Linked DNA regions of Homo sapiens: region 1 is linked to region 2. The links come from fine-mapping of genetic effects on gene expression. Tissue or cell type: whole blood. Region 2 holds a variant in brackets; the other region holds the start of a gene. All regions are shown on one strand. Distances are from middle to middle.

Region 1 (8,330 bases), 95 kb after region 2:
AGCAGTTCACGCCTGTAATCTCAGCACTTTGGGAGGCAGAGACGGGTGTATACTTGAGGTCAGGAGTTCAAGACCAGCCTGGCCAACGTAGCAAAACTCCGTCTAACTCTGTCTCTACTAAAAATACAAAAATTAGCCAGGTGTGGTGGCACACGCCTGTAGTCACAGCTACTCGGGAGGCTGAGGCAGGAGAATCGCTTGAACCCAGGAGGCAGAGGTTGCAGTGAACCAAGATCGCACCACTGCACTCCAGCCTAGGTGAAACAGCAAGACTCTGTTTCAAAAAAAATAATTAAAAAAAAAAAAAGGGAAAAAGAAAATCTACCCAACAATAGCCACGTAAATTATGGTTAATTCACATAATTGACTCCAACATAGCCATTTTAAAATGTCTATTTTTTTTAAGTAGGGAGAAATGTTTACAAAGTAACTTTATGTAGAAAAAGTCAAAATGTTAAATCAAGCATACAGTACATTCTCATCCATGACAGTTCCTATGGTGTGAGCTACCTTCTTTTTAGCCTTTACTCAGTTTCAGGCACTGTGCTAAAAGTTCTACAAGTACTATTTTGTTTAATCCCAACAAAATTCTGATGTAGTTACTATCATTGTGCCCATTTCACAAAGGAAAAAATGTAGGTTCCAAACTGCCCATGGTCAATTAGAAACTGGCCAAAAGAGGAGGCAAATCGAGATCTGACTTCAAACACTGTATTCTCTTAGCTACTGTATACAGCAAAGAGGAGACTGAGACAGAAGTGTGACAACATGCTAACAGCAGTTCTCCCTCGGTGGTGGGATCAGGAACCATGAAAGATCTTTTCTATACTTTCAAATATTTTTCAAATCTTCACATAATCACAAATTGGTAAAAAGAATGATTTTAAAATCTGCAAAATAACTTTTTTAAGTGTACAGAGGGATTCAGAAGAAAAGTTAGGCAACTTACATTTCCTCATCTTCATCTTCTTCATCCACCCAAACTGGCTTCTTTTGAGGTGGAAAATTACCTTTTGCTTCATTCTCCACTTCTGAGTCACCCGAGTCTTCATGTTCTTGAACCTACAGCAGACAAAACACCCTCAAGCACTGAGATTTTCCTATCCCATGACTGCAGACACATAGGCCTTACAGCCAAATGGCTCATAGAATGTTTTTTCTACCACTCTCTGATGAAATAATGGGATGGAATGCTACCATTGCAAATGCTGGAAGCAGAGGCAGAAAATGGAGAAATCAGAGAATGGCACCGACTGGACAGGTGAGGCAAGATGGAACAGTCAAGGAGAAAAAGTCAACACTCAACACGCAGGAAGGAAAACACCAAGTAAGACAAGAACAAAAGATGAGTCTGCAGATGAAAAAAGGAGGAGAAATGTCAGAACTACAGAAATTACAGGACCGGAGGCAAACTAGAGTCAAAGATATCTCCATTTTCCCAATCTGTTTTTGACCCCCTACCTCCTTAAGAAACTTTATACCAGCAGAGAGCGCAATGCCTCATGCCTGTAATCCCAACACTTTGGGAGGTCAAGGTGGGAGGACTGCTTGGGCCCAGGAGTTCGAGTCCAGCCTGGGCAACATAGGGAGATCTCGTCTCTACAGAAAATTTTTAAATTTAGCTGGGTGTGTGGTGTGCACCTGTGGCCCCAGCTAACTACTTGGGAGGCAGAGGCAGGAGGATCACTTGAGCCTAGGAGGATGAAGCTGACTTCTGAGTTTAAAGTGTTCGGAGAATTGTGCAGGTGTAATTTATCTGTGACCAACAAGAAGAGCAACCAGTTACTATTAGCAAAAGGGAGATGGAAGACTAATAGGTGCCGCTACACTCCAGTCTGGGTGACAAAGTTAGACCGTATCTCTAAATAAGTAAAAAATAAATATACCATTAAATCTAAATTCTAAAGTTATAAATTTATACCATAAAGTTTATACTATCAAATCTAAACCTAGGCCGGGTGCGGTGGCTCACACTTGTAGTCTCAGCACTTTGGGAGGCCGAGGCGGGCGGATCACGAGGTCAGGAGTTTGAGACCAGCCTGGCGAAGATGGTGAAACCCCGTTTCTACTAAAGATACAAAAAAAAATTAGCCAGGCGTGGTGGCGCACGCCTGTAATGCCAGCTACTCCAGAGGCTGAGGCAGGAGAATCGCTTGAACCCAGGAAGTGGAGGTTGCAGTGAGCCGAGATGGCGCCACTGCACTCCAGCCTGGGCGACAGGGCGAGTCTAAAAAAAAAAAAAAATCTAAACCTAGACCACAGAATATCCCTTGAAGTGAGTTTGAGCTTCCCAAAACCAATGATAGAAATGTCCAAGTGGTTTCTACTTGCTCTACTACTAGTCTAATAGCCTTCAAACCCAACAGCTCCCACCTCCGTACACTGTTCCTTTTCCAGACGACAAAACCGTCGCACAGTTCAGCATGTTTCCAGTAATAGTTCTGTACTTCCCAAAAAGATTGCTGCCACTTCTCCTACAAGCACCCGAAGGCGGCTCTGGTAAGCAGCTGACATTAACTAGGTCAGCATTTGTGTAATAAACATGGCCTGGGTAATTCTCGGTGAGCTTTCCTCTGCCCCCTTTATCTAAAATTTCACAGGCCTCTACACACGCCCATCTCCCTTTCCCGAATGTCCTTTTTTCTCTTCAGCACTTGTCACCAACAAACCTGAAGTTTACTCGTTTATCTCCTCTATCTTGTCTCTGCCACTAGCACACAAGCGCCAAAAGGCAGGGATTTTTGTCAGTTTTGTCCATTGCTGTGTCTCCTCCAGTGCCTAGAACAATGTCCGGGACTCTCTCAAGAAAAGCCTGGTATAGAATTTAAAGGGATAGCAAAATGTGTGCAAAAAGTATGATCAATCACGCAGGGTTTGCCATTGCCAGAAAGGGTATCTGGCAACTAACAGGTTCACCAATATTTGCTAAATGAACGGAATACACGATCATTCTCAAAACATGGTGGGTCTCATAGTCACATGGGGACATAGTTACAACGGAGATGCCCAGGCCCGTGCCCACGAATTGATTCCATCAACGAAATCGAATTCCTGAATCACAAGGAACTGAGGCAGGTGATCAAAAGACCACCCTCAGTTTGGGAAGAGGCTAGCGGAGTCGAGCAGCAGCGAAAGATGCTCACGACCACAGTTCGCAAAGCAGATACCCGAGCAGCGGCGCCTCCAGGGGCGGAGAAAGACGCGGTCCCCGCCCTCCAGGCACTTTCAGTCTGGAGCAGGGAGGCGAGGGACCCGCAGCTGCGACCCTCCGCGCCCGCGTTCTCGGGCTCCCTCCCACCTGAGCGCTCCCCGCCGCCGCAGGTCGCCCAGGCTCCGCCCCCCGGAGCTTCACCGCCCACCGCGCGCCCCGCCCGAGTGCGCCCAGCCCGCGCGCCGCGGCCTCCCTCACCCTCGGGCCTCGCAGACGCCGCAGCAACGCGTCCTCGTCGTTCTCGACGTCGCCGAAGACCAGCTCCTCCAAGCACCGCTCCACGGCCGGTTTGTCCTCCTCCAGCCTCAGGCGGTTCCGCTGCCGGAGCCGTCTCTCTTCCTCCGCCGCCGCGACTGCAATCGCAGCGGCCGCCGCGCTCGGCCGGGCCGGCGGTTTCCGCTGGGATGAAGGGGCAGGCTTTTGGGGAGGCCCGCCTGGCCCCGCTCCGGCTTTCCAGTCCGGCCTCATTCCGGGCTTCCGCTTCGGCTTCGCTCCGGTTCTCCGGTCCAGTTTCATTCGTCTCCTCCGCTCCGGCGGCATCGTTAGGTTTGAGGAGAAACGCAGGCGCTCACGTGGAACCTCGCTGCGCATGCGCCCAGGCCCCTCGCGGGCCGCCGCCGCCGAAGCCCCGGGGGCCGGAAGGAGCCTGCGCAGCCTCTTGCCACGTGACCAGCACTCCCTCCCTCTACGTAACTCCCGCTCCCCTACCCAGCCCCGCCCCGTGTGGGAGTTCCTCCGGGAGGGCCAATCTTCCGGGTGTAGGGGGAAGCGGCGTGACTGGAGTGGAAAATTTTTCCAACACAATTTCGCAGCTGCAACATATTGAAAGGAGCGCAAGAAACCCCGACTATACACTGGGACGGCTGAATGGAACTTCTGCTTTTCCTCTTGGCTGTAACCACTTGACTTGACACAAGCCCCAATACGCTTTCCACCCTTCGTCTTGGTACGGTCCTTGGAGTACGGAGCCTGCAGAGGGTCCCACGGTGGAAGCGAGAGAGGAGGGTATGTAGGGAAGTGGGCCAATCGGGGCGCGGGTCACGGCGCAGGCGCGCTGGGGAGGGAGGGCTATGCTAATGTTGTTGATATCCTGGGGCCACCCGAGTTAAAGGGGGGAAATCCGGGGGCTGCTGCACCCGCCACCGGTCTGGGCCCAGCCGGGGGCCCCCTGTAGTCGCCGCAGTCCCGGGGAGAGGCACCTGCCCCCAGCCCGGGGAGGGGGCGCCGCGGGCTCGGGGAGCACGGACAACCCCTACCCATGAGGCCCTGATGGAAAACACAAAGGATCTGGTGAGAGCCGAGCGCGGCAGCCGCTTTGTGTGCCAGGTGGGGGGGACGCCTGCAGCTCTCCGACCCCAGGAACCCCGCAGCTCCCTGACCCCGCTCCCTGGCCTGCTTCTCCATCCCACGCCCTCTCAACCTCCGGAGCCCCCCTCCCCCTTCCAGCCGTTAAACGATTCAGGGGTTCCCCTCCCCCCACCCCGTCAGCCTTGGACTCGTTGGGGTTCTCTCCATCTCCTCCACCCTTTGGAAGAAAAATTCGAGAAGAAAGTTTTTCTCTGCGTCCTGCCCCCGCCCCCTGCTCTGGCTAGGGGGGAAAGGCTGGATCCGAGACTTTTCCTTTTTTAGCCACCCAGGGTGGGAGAGTGGAGTAGTCCTCTCTTCTTGGCGGGGAGGGGGAGCACAGTTTCGTTGCTTTGCAGGGGAAGGTGTCTATCTGCCTTGGGGGCAGTGCCGCGAGGCGGTTTGCACGTGGAGGTGGAAATATTGAAAGGGGGCGGGGTGGGCACGTGCGGGAGAGGTGGGAGTGGTGTTTGGGAAGCAGCCTCCAAGGCTGCATATTTAAAAGGGTTTCAAGTCGGTGGACTTCTGTGACCATTGCGTTCTCCTTTGTGAAATAAGAATCCTAACATTTCAGAGTCGGAAGAGACATTAGAGGTCATCCAAAGCAGCCGTCCCCTCTGCAGCCTCTCTGACAAGTGGTAGGTAGTCTGAACCCTGCTTACACCCCTAAAAGCACTGAGAGCTCACTACTGCCCAGGAAAGCCCATATTTCAGTAGTTCTAATTGTTGTCTGCCTACCCTTATTAGACCCTTCAGTCTCATTCATGTCCTGGTTAAGTTGCTCCTTTTTTTACTTCTCAAATTTTCTCTCACATCCTCCTCACCCACCCACTGCTCATTGGCCTATATTTTGTGTGCCAAGAAAGAACAGCAGGGAAGTGGAGGAAGGGGGGTTGAGAGATAGTGAGGGCTAGCCGAAAACTTTGCTGGGTCAGTGTCAAGTGTGCTGGCTTACATGCCTGAAGATGTTTTTCTACAGGAAGCTAAAGAATTACAATATGGGAATTTCGTGCCTGTTTTCTCTTAGGAGTGCATCTTTTTGAAGTTAGAAATTTCAGCGTCATCTCCGTGGTTCTTGTATCACAAAACACATTTGTTTATTACCTAAATCACTTCTAAGGATGTCTAAAACTGAAGTGGTTAGAAGCATCACCTGGTAGAGGGATGATTAGATGATTACCGCCCACACCCGTATTTGACCTGTGTTCCTCGGAAGCTAGTCTTTCCTCCAAGGGCCTCTCTTCCAAATGCTTTTACTCCTTCTTTTTTTTTTTTAAGTAACTATCTTTTATGAGATTTGAAATTTACGAACCATTTTAATACTTGTTTAGAGTTTACAATATTTTTAATTCTCCTTATATTAGCATGCACCAGTACTTATCACTGGGTGGTTGAGATAGTTGAAACTATTGTCACTGGGTGTTTTTCTAACATTCTCCTTCATTTGGTGAGCTATGCTGCCTCTAAAAGTAGTTTTATTGGCCTAAGAATCTTGGATATACCTATTACTCTCTAATGTGGTGAAGTGGGTGTCAAGACATAACAGGTATAATGTAGAAATAATGCATGTGATTTAAAAGCCAGCAAATAAATTTCACCTTAAGCCCCAGTCTCCTATTTAAAAGGTTAGACTCAATTTTTCTCTCCTCCTCTTATAACTTAGAGACTGTTGCTTTGCTCTTGTGGACTTAGACTGTTATTTTATTTTTCATTTGTTTACCTCAACACCAGAGTGTTTAGAAAGAAAATAGCTGTACTTTTTTTTTTTTTTTGCACCACCTCCTTCTCTGAATAACAAGTAGCTTCTATCTATCTAAAACCCCATACTGATTGCTTGTGAGTACCTTGCAAATTATGGCAACATCTGTCTTGAATAAGTATTTATTCATAGTGCCTTACGTTGTTGCGTCATGCTTTTTAACCATCCAGTTTCTAACTTTATGTAATGTTTGACATAAAATATTTCCTCTAAATCTACTCATTAGAATTCAGCTTGTGAAAAAGAATCAGTAGAGGTGTAATAATAGTGTTTTTAACATTTTAATTAATAAGGAGTTCCAAGTTTTTTTCCTGCTTACTTTAAACATGAACTGTCATGACTTAAGTTGACTGACTTTGGAGACATCTGCATTCTAAACATACTAGACAGGAACAACTGGTTTTATTTTTAAGACGCTGCCATATTCTTTAAAGCTGGTTATATGTTGACCTTATTATCTAAACCTTTCTAGATGTTCTAGTGCTGCTTTTGGTCCCTCAATAATGTTGAAAATTAAAACAACATTTTAAATTGTTTTCAAATGTAACATAGTGATCAAAGGAAAATATAAGCTATAGTTTAAAAGTGAAAACAACATATTAGGATAAATACTAAACCACTGAATTACTAAAAGCCAAGAGTGCTCAGTAGTCTGAGTAACCACATTCTAAAATTAGACAAGTGACATTCTTTGGGTTGCTCTTTGTTTCTCAGCTTTTCATCTTTAAAATGTTTGCTAAATAAGATATAACCTTTCACACTTATGTATCATTAGTCTGAGGGTTTCAAAATTCAAGAAAGAATAAAAACATCAGGACAATAAAAGAGAAAGGACTTACAATAGTTAAAACAAGCTAAGATATTTCTCCTAACACCACAGTATTCTTAACTGTGCAAGATGACTTTTGATTTCAGGCAAAAATTGCACATAGATTTAATCATTATTTTTTAATAAACCTTGGCTTAAGGATTTTTTTACCTGCAAATTTAGGATTTCTCTTCTTGCTTTGCTGGAACCCACAATAAAAGGTGAAAAGGAAATAATTCCCATTTGAACAAACCCTGAATATGAGATAGGATGAAGTGATACAATAAGAGGGGTGCTGGCAGTGAGGTTGATGTCACAATTCTGCCATTGAGTAGCTCCATGGCCCTTGTTGGACAAGATCCTGTGCCTCCATTTTCTCATGGCAGTTGAAGGGTTAGTCTAGTATCAGCATAATCCAATAGAAGTTTCTGCAATGATGGAAATTTCCTATATCTTTGCTGTCCAGTTACGGTAGCCACTAGCCACATGTGGTTGTTGAGCACTTGAAATGTAACTAGTGGAACTAAAAATTGAAGAACTCAATTTTTAATTTTGCTGTTTTAGGCAATGTAAATTTAAGTAGCCAAATGTCTGGCATACTGGACATACACACATAGAACACTGTTTTCTAAGCATAACTAATCATTATAATCACTTCTTGGAGGCTCTTGTTAAAATACTAAACTTCTCTCCTATAACTTATTTAGTAGGTCTGCAGTGGGTCCTGGGAATGTGTTTTTAATGTATACCCCAGAAAGTTTATCAGGTTGGTTAGGGAAACACTCCATTAGGAGATTTCTGAGGTCCCTTCGAGTTCTCACTTTAGCACTGATAATTTAGAATTTAGTCTAGTAGAAGTGAGCTCTGGACAAAGTCAGCAAGCTACCTCTCTGAACTGCGATCTTAGGTGAGTTGTGTAACCTCTTTGAAAGCTTCACTTTCCTCATCTGAAATACAGGGTGAACATCAGCCCTGCCTCCTGTAGTTTCTGTAAACCTCCACTCAGATGTTATGCCCGCTGTTTAAAAAAAGTAAGCTGCTATAAAAGATGAGACAAGTCATAAGATAAAATGTTAAGATGTGTTCCCAGGCTTTCCTTCTTTTTCCTTTTTCACTATGTTTAATTCCTACTACTAGTCTTTTAAAACTGGTTGTATATAATACTCATTAGTTTGTTCAACGTTGTGGCCCAATTATTTGGCCACCGT
Region 2 (8,313 bases):
TATTTACAAAAGATATATACTTTTTCTTTTTGCTGCAGAAAATGGCAAGATAAAGCTTCATTTTTTGATATTATACTATCAAAAAATTGTCAATATGGGACTCTAAATTCAGCAGAACTGCTTGAAATAGAGTTCAAATATCTAAGAAGTTTTTAAAATAGCCATTGTATAAAAGCTAGTCTCACATGTTGATGGAAATAGAAGGATGAAGTAACACTATGTTATTCAACTCAGAATATCCTAGGAGAACAAAGAGAAGCAGAGAAACTATAGCCTTGGAGCACCAGCAGCTTGTCCTGGCTTTTTTGTGAATGGCCGTGAAGAAAGGTGAATAAGGAACTGTAAAACTACTAGAAGAAAACAGGAAAAGCTCTACCCCATTGGTCTGGGAAAGTATTCCGTGGATATCATTCACCTCACAAACACTGGCAACAAAAGCAAAAATAGACTAACGGGATTGCATCAAACTAAAACGCTTCTGCACAGCAAAGGAAACAACAGGTGAAGAGACAACCTACAGATTGGGAGAAAATATTTGCAAATCATGCATCAGATAAGGCGCTAATACCCAAAATACATAAGAAACTCAAACTACTCAGTAACAGGAAAACGAATAATTCTTTTTTTGTTTGTTTCATTTTTGAGACAAGCTCTCACTCTGTTGCCCAGGATGGAGTGCAGTGGCATGATCTTGGCTCACTGCAACATCCACCTCCCGGGCTCAAGCGATCCTCCCACCTCAGCCTCCTGAGTAGCTGGGACTACTTAATCTTAAGCAGGGACAGGTGCATGCCACCATACTCAGCTAATTTTTTGTTTTTGTTTTTGATAAAGATAGGACTTCATCAGTTTGCCCAGGCTGGTCTCAAACTCCTGGGCTCAAGCAATCCAGCCACCTCGGCCTCCCAAAGTGCAGGGATAACAGGCATGAGCCACCACACCTGGCCCACTCTATTTTAAAATTGGCAAAAGACCTGAATAGCCATTTCTTGAGAGGCTGTATAAATGGCCAACAGATAGATGAAAAAATGCCCAACATCGCCAGTCATTAGGGACATGCAAATCAAGGCCACAATAAGATATCACTTCACCCCAGTTAGAATGGCTATTATCAAAAGATAACAAATGCTGCCAAAGATTTGAAGAGAGGGGAATTCCTATACATCATTGGTGGGAATGGAAATGAGCACAGCCATTGTGGAAAACAATATGGCAGTTCCTCACAAAATTGAAAACAGAACTACCATATGATCCACCAATCCCACTTCCGGGTTTCTATTCAAAGGAATTGAGATCAGTATGTCAAGGAGATGTCTGCATCCCATGTTCATTGCCACATCATTCACAATAGCCAAGATCTGGAAACAACCTAAGTGCCTGTCAATGAATAAATTGATTTTTTAAATGTGGTGTCTATATATACAACAGAATATATTCAGCCTTGAAAAAGAAGAAAATTCTGTCACTTGCAACAACATGGATGAATCTAGAGGACACTATGCTCAGTGATATAAGCCAGGCTCAGAAAGACAAATACTACACATGATCTCACATATATATGGAATCTTTTTTTTTTTTCTTTGAGATGGAGTCTCACTCTGTCACCCAGGCTGGAGTGCAGTGGCGTGATCTCGGCTCATTGCAACCTCCAACTCCCGGGTTCAAGCAGTTCTTCTGTCTCAGCCTCCCAGGTAGCTGAGACTACAGGCACCTGCCACCACACCCAGCTAATTTTTGTATTTTTAGTAGAGATGGGGTTTCACCATATTGGTCAGGCTGGTCTCGAACTCCTGACCTCAAGTGATCCACCCGCCTCGGCCTCCCAAAGTGCTGGGATTACAGGCATGACCCACCACGCCCAGTCATGTATGGAATCTTCAAAAGCTGAACTCATAGAGTAGATTTTAGAAGTCCTCATCACAAAAAAAAAGATAAGTATTGAGGTGATGGATATGTTCATTAGCCTGATTTGATCAATTCTACAATGCCTACATGTATGGAAACATCACATTGTACCCCATAAATATATATGATTATTATTCATCAATTAAAAGTTTACAAATTAGCCAGGCATGGTGGCTCACGCCTGTAATCCCAGCTCTTTGGGAGGCTAAGGTGGGAGGATCACTGAAGGTCAGGAGTTCAAGACCAGCCTGGCCAACATAGTGAAACCCTGTCTCTACTAAAAATACAAAAATTAGCTGGGCACGGTGGTGCGCACCTGTAGTCTAAGCTACTCGGGAGGCTGAGGCAGGAGAATGGCTTGAACCTGGGAGGCAGAGGTTGCAGTGAGCCGAGATCACGCCACTGCACTCCAACCTGGGAGACAGAGTGAGACTCTACCTAAAAAAAAAAAAAAAAAAAAGTTTAAAAATTAAAGTGGATTAATTCTGAAAAAATAAAAGGAAAGCAGATAGGCATCTGGAAGAGGTACCAGAACTTCCCCATTCCAAGGTTACTTATCTCAGAGTTGTGAATGGATGTCTCGGGGTGATGCTGTAGAACAAAGTGATCAAGGACAAGCAATGATTCCCAAACCCTCACCTGGGATCTAGAGTGCAAGACCTACCCTGTGGGCAATCAGGAGAGATCAGTGAGCAGCTGTCCTCACCCTTGGGTGCCCACCTCCTTTCTTCAACCTTACAAATCTGACCTGTGGATATAAGGTCTAAAACCCCCATCGACATAAGTCTGATTTTCTTTCTGTTCTGTCTGCAACACAGAAAAGAAGAGAACCTTTTAGGGCATTTAGAAAAATGATAAATTCCAACAAGGTTTGAGATTAATTGCATTTTTCATTTTTTATTTAACTCTCTTTGCTTTCTATGGCTATAGGAAAGTGTGAGTAGTCTATAAGGGCTGTCCCTTAGCCGAGCATCATAATCTTTGCTAATTCAGGACCATGACATGCATGGAGGAACAAATGGATAGTTACATAGATAAATTGACTATTGGTGGGTAGATGAACTGGTAGATAAATAATGCTGTAAAGAGAGAGGAACAGAGACAGGGAGAGTAAATTTTAAACAGTCAATCAGCAAGGCCAGGGCTGGAACAAACACCATCTCCCTAGAATTGCCCAGAAGAAGAACGTGGCTTCTGGAAGGCTTCTAGGAATGTACATTGAAGAATATTCAAACTGCCCAAAGAAATAGCAACAACAACAACAGCAACAACAAAAATCAGTTATCCAACTACAAAAGGGTGAACAGAATAATTATGAACCTCAGGAATTAGAAGAGGAAAGAAAATGGAAAGACAGACTTATGAAAAATCTTAACACTTCTATCTACTGCCACGTTCAAAGTAAAGTCCAAACCAATCAGCAAAACTCCTAAGAGGAGCCTGCGGCTGCGAGAAATCTTTCTGAGGTCACTGAGTCCCTACCCTGCCTGAGGGAGGCAGAGCTGTTCCTAAGTCGCCCTCCCCTGGAACAGAAGCTCGGATCCCAAGGGCTGATTGATTCCTGCGCCTTGGAGAAATACTCTTTAAAATTAAAGAATTACTCGGCAGGTTTTTTCCTCTCTTGCCTAGTCGTGCATTATTACCAAAAGGGAGAATAAGCTGCAACTGTCAGGTCCAGCGGCTCCACCCTCAGTCTAGGAAGGAGCTCACGTGTGCACTGTCATCAGACAGATTTGTCCCTAGAGCCGAGATGTTCTCC[G/A]CAGTGTCGGTTATAATGCCCAGAAAATTAAATCCAAGGCTGCTGCTGTTTCTGCAGACTGGCGCTGGTCAGTTACAGGCAGGGCAGGGAAGAAGCAGTGGATGGAGAAAGTAATCATCTGTTTTGAATTAGGGATGGCAGGGAGGCAGTATGGGAGCGGGAGGAACATGCACAGATCTTTGGGTTTTCATTTCTGCTTTGCCAGATGGCCACTGTGTGCCTGTAAGCAAAGGACCTCACCCCTCTGTCTCTCTGAACTTCCACTTCCCCATATACAAAAAGAGATAGTAGTGCCTATCCCCTGAAGTTATTTCAGGATTAAAGATTATGCATAAAAGGGCCCATCCCACAATCCGTGAAAGCTGTCATCACGGTCATCAGCCCCTGCCTGGCTCTCAGGCCTGCTCCGCTGCTCCAGCCCTGCCCACAGCTGAGGCTTCTGACTCCACATGCAGTTTCTTCCCCTCACTTCCCTCCAAAAGGCAGCTCCAGACAGAATGTGTCAGCTCTGCCTCAGTCTTCCTTGCTACTGTGCCAACTCTAATGAGGTGGCTCCAGCATTACAGGTGGCCTTTGACGTGGTGTCTGCCTCTAGTTTCTTGGCCTCATCAACTATGCAGTGGTCTTACTGAGCAACTGCTAACTCGGGTCCCTTCTGAAACAGACATCCTGCCTGGCTCCTGCCTTACTCTCAGTCTCCCTCCCAGAGACTGGACTTCTACTCTGAGCCCTAGTCTGATGACAAATGCTTTGCTATTCAAAGAGAGACCTCTGCGCTGACAGAACCCTAAGCATCTCCCACACCAGGATCCCTGTTGCTGGACTCTGCCCATGTCAACCCCCACCACTTGGTTCAGTCCCACCCTTGTTGCAGGCTGCCTGCCAGAGATCAGCAGGCACCTCCCTCCTTCCTGCCAAATCTTTCTCCCTCTGCAGAATGTGATTTGGTGGAATAGACACAAATTATAGAATCAGACTGCCCTGAACATCTATGTGTGACCTTGGGCAATTTCTTCACCTCTCAGAACCACATGTATAAAATGAGGATAACAACAGCCTCATTGGGCCATGGAGGAAATTCAGGGAAGGACGTGCATTGCAAGCCTGGCACTGTGCCTGGCATGGGGGCAGTGCTCCCTAAAGGCCCACTCCCCTTTGCCTCCTCCCATCGCCAATGGCCTGTAACTGGTCATGTCCACCTGAATCCAGAGGTAGAAAATGGTCATTAAAACAAATTGTCACTTGATTCTATAAGCCAGGTGGCACATGACAGCCATTAATTTTTCACATGAAAAATGGCTCTGCTAATTGAAAAACATCAAAAAGATTGAGGTTTACACAAATGTTCAGCTCTGTTTATTTTTTCTAATTTACTTTTCAGCAGTCAGTAAGAACTTAATGAGCTCTCATTTATGGCTTCCTCCCTATTTATAGATATTGGCGCCTGTGGTGTTCTAGATGTATATACTGAGAGCATTCAGCCTGGGCTACATGGCCAGTAGGGAAGAGTTACAATACCCAGGTAAATTCCAGACAGGAATTACTGCTCCTCAAAAACTTAGCTGATACACTGTTCATTAAGAAAACGCCCTGCTACTTTACATTGGCTGGATACTGTTTTCCTCTTCTTGGGAAAAATTTTTCTAGCTGGAAGTTTCATTTGATATGACATGAAAATAGTTAACATTTATGGAGCAATTGCTCGGTTTCAGACACCGTGTTGTGCATGGTATGTGGATTCTTTCATGCTTGTCATAACACTGAGGAAAATACCCTTATTAACCCTGTTTCCAGATGAGGGAATTAAGATGTAGGGGAAAATGTAAAATGTTGAAACCCAATTTTCTCTGGGTCCAGATTCCATATTTTTATCATGGCATCTACACAGCCATACCCTCTTTTCAACAAGCAGAGAGCCAACTGGTGAGTTCTGTCCATTTGAGGAGAGACAGATACGGGAGAAGAGCACTGCGCCAAGAGTCAGGAGACATGAATTCAAGTCCCACATCTTCCAAGAGTCCTCAGGACCTTGAGCATGTCCCTCACCATCTCTGCTTTGAAGTTTAGAGGTCTGGGATAGGGCTGGAGCCAGAACGCGGGCACCAACCCTTCTTCCCCTCTCGCTGACCAGCTAACAAAGACAACAAGGGGAATTAGAGTTTCAGATTTATTAATGGCCAGTTTTATACCCCCAAACCACCCAAAGTAGAGCCCTCTGACAAAGCTGGAATGGCAAACACAGATTAGACTCAGGCCAAAGTGGACGCCTCTGACTCCTGCCCCAGGTCTAGACCTTGGAACCCACCAGACCATGAGGATGCCCCACCTGGCCAGGCTTGGAGTGAGAACAAAGGTCTTTGAGTCCTGGGGCAAACAGCTCAGAAAGATAAAGTGGAGCCTCTTTCCCACTGCTGAGGCACCAGAAACCCTGCCCAGCAGCAAAACATGACTCAACCAGTCCTCTAATGAAGAGAAACAGGAGGGCAGAGAGAGGAACAGAGCTTACACGGCAGTCCTTCCCTGAGCGGGGAGATGTAAAAGCAGAAGTTCTCACCCCCATGGGCCAAGGTGGGGGTCGGCAGAGAGGAGGAGAAAGATCCCCCTAAAATTCTTGACCTGTAAACTAAAAGGCTGGACCCCTGAAGCAAGAGGCAACACTGATGAATGAGAGGAATGGCTGCCACTATGCAAAGTGAATGGATTCAAGAAGTTGGATTGTACCTGACTGCAGACTAGAGACACAGCAGTGGGAAGGTTGGCACCTCTGGTTTGGAGAAACTGAGGATGATCCCTTTGAGTTAAGGACACTGTCTTATTCATTCTATATCCCCCACACCCTGCACTGATGGAGGCTGGCTCAGGGTCAGGCTCAATCAGTGTCTGTTGAACTAATGAGAGAATGAATAGAAGGGCTGTGGTTTGGCATCTCCTGAGACAACGAGCCCACAGAGCTGCTCTGAGACATGATTCATAAGCCTTCTGGTGCTGCAGGGATGGTCACTGGTGTTGTACCTGTTCATTTTGACTCCCAGTCACATATTAACAACCAAGATGGCAGCAGTTCTCACAATAGCATTTGTGGGGAGATGACACAAATAGAAATAAATTACTTCTAGAGATCAGCATGTTACAGCACAATCACTTGTATAACTGCATACCTCAGGCCTTGGGAGTAGAATCGAAATTTAGCCTGGAACCCTGGGCTCCCAACTCGCATTTTGGTGCTCCTTTCCTCCACCACAGAGCGCAGCAGAGGCTGCCGTACAGGCAGAGCTACATACAGCACCGGACTCAGTGAAGACCCCATCTACACTCAGGCCAAGAACTCTTTTTTTTTTTTTTTTTTTTTTTTTTTGAGGCAGCATCTCACTCTATCACCCAGGCTGGAGTGCAGTGGTGCAATCTTGGCTCACCGTAGCCTCAAATCCCTGGGCTCAAGCAATCCTCCCACCTCAGCCTCCCAAGTAGCTGGGACTACAGGTGTGCACCAATATGCCTGGCTAATTTTTTTATTTTTAGTAGAGATGAGGTCTAGCTATGTTGCCCAGGCTGGTCTCAAACTCCTGGGCTCAAGCAATACTCCCACCTTGGCCTCCCAAAGTGCTGGGATTACAGGCTTGAGCCACCACACCCAGGCAAGAGCTCTTCTTACAAACTGGTTTTTTCAACACTCCTAACCTTGCCATCATCCCACAAGTAACAAATAATCAAAATCCTCTTCTTGGACTTCAAATACAAGCACCAGGAATACACAAAAATATATGCATGAGTTCTCTTGCAATCTTATGTTGACAACTGAACCAGTGAGTTCAGGCAGCTAGTAAGCAGCTGAACTGGGCTGCGGTCCCAGATATTCCCTGAGCCAAGGCCAAGGAAAAGCTTTTTCAAGAATGTGATGTTTAAGCTGAGCCCAGGAAAATGAATAAGCAGGAGTTAGCTTGGGGAAGGGGATGAGATGGAAGCTCCTACAGGGAGAGGGAGGAGCACTTTCAACATCCTTGAGGTGGGAGCGCTTATGATTTTTCCATCAGACCACGCTGCCTCACAAAACCTCATTTTATGAATGAAAAGAGGACATCCCCCAGAACAAAAATCTTGTATCATATCACGGGAAAGGAAGGAAGGGGCAGGGAAGGGGAGGAGGGGAGAGTGGAGGAGATCGAATTCTTCCCCTTTCCAATATGATAACATCCTTTTCAGCAGATCACTCACCTTGGGAGATGCTCCATTAAAAACAGAGTTCTAAGACCAAATAAATTTGGGAAATAACCACATAGCTATATCCTCCTCTTGACAAGTCATACAGCTCATTAACCATTTAAAGACCTTGAGAAGTCCTGCAGCAAAGAACATGAGTTTCTCCAACCCATTTGACTACTTCTTCAATCAATACCTATTTAACATTCCATAGGATATACGTCAAGGAAAGCCTTCCATAAATTAACTTCAACAGCCACGTGGAAAGTGCTAACTCCGACCTCAGCCCCAAGGACCAAAAGCTCTTTAATACCACAGTCTATTGCACCAAGTTTCCTATGCAGTCCCGTGAGCATCGCAAGTGCCCTGGTCAAGCCCCAGGCTTAAAGCACCCATCCCCAAGACAAGGGGCATGTGGAATGAAGCACACGCTCACTATTTGATCTCTGGGA

Evidence for each region. PIP is the estimated chance that this variant, and not a neighbour inherited with it, causes the effect.
Region 1: UTP18 starts here. The variant in region 2 is fine-mapped to the expression of UTP18 in whole blood (INTERVAL, PIP above 0.99). The same link has a PIP of 0.9 or more in esophagus mucosa.

What each region holds. Positions count from the first base shown.
Region 1 is chr17:51,256,006-51,264,335 of GRCh38, reverse strand. UTP18 (UTP18 small subunit processome component) reads right to left here and starts at 3,790. Exons shown (of 14, transcript NM_016001.3): 1 at 3,410-3,790; 2 at 950-1,062. The coding sequence starts at 3,751. MBTD1 (mbt domain containing 1) reads left to right here and starts at 4,287. Exons shown (of 17, transcript NM_017643.3): 1 at 4,287-4,501; 2 at 5,130-5,193. RefSeq lists an enhancer at 2,720-2,769 and silencers at 3,240-3,429, 3,780-3,889, 4,230-4,549.
Region 2 is chr17:51,351,288-51,359,600 of GRCh38, reverse strand. No RefSeq gene overlaps it. Among named protein-coding and RNA genes, the nearest start is that of LINC02072, 19 kb to the right of the region's middle. The variant G/A (reference allele first, on the strand shown) is at 3,665.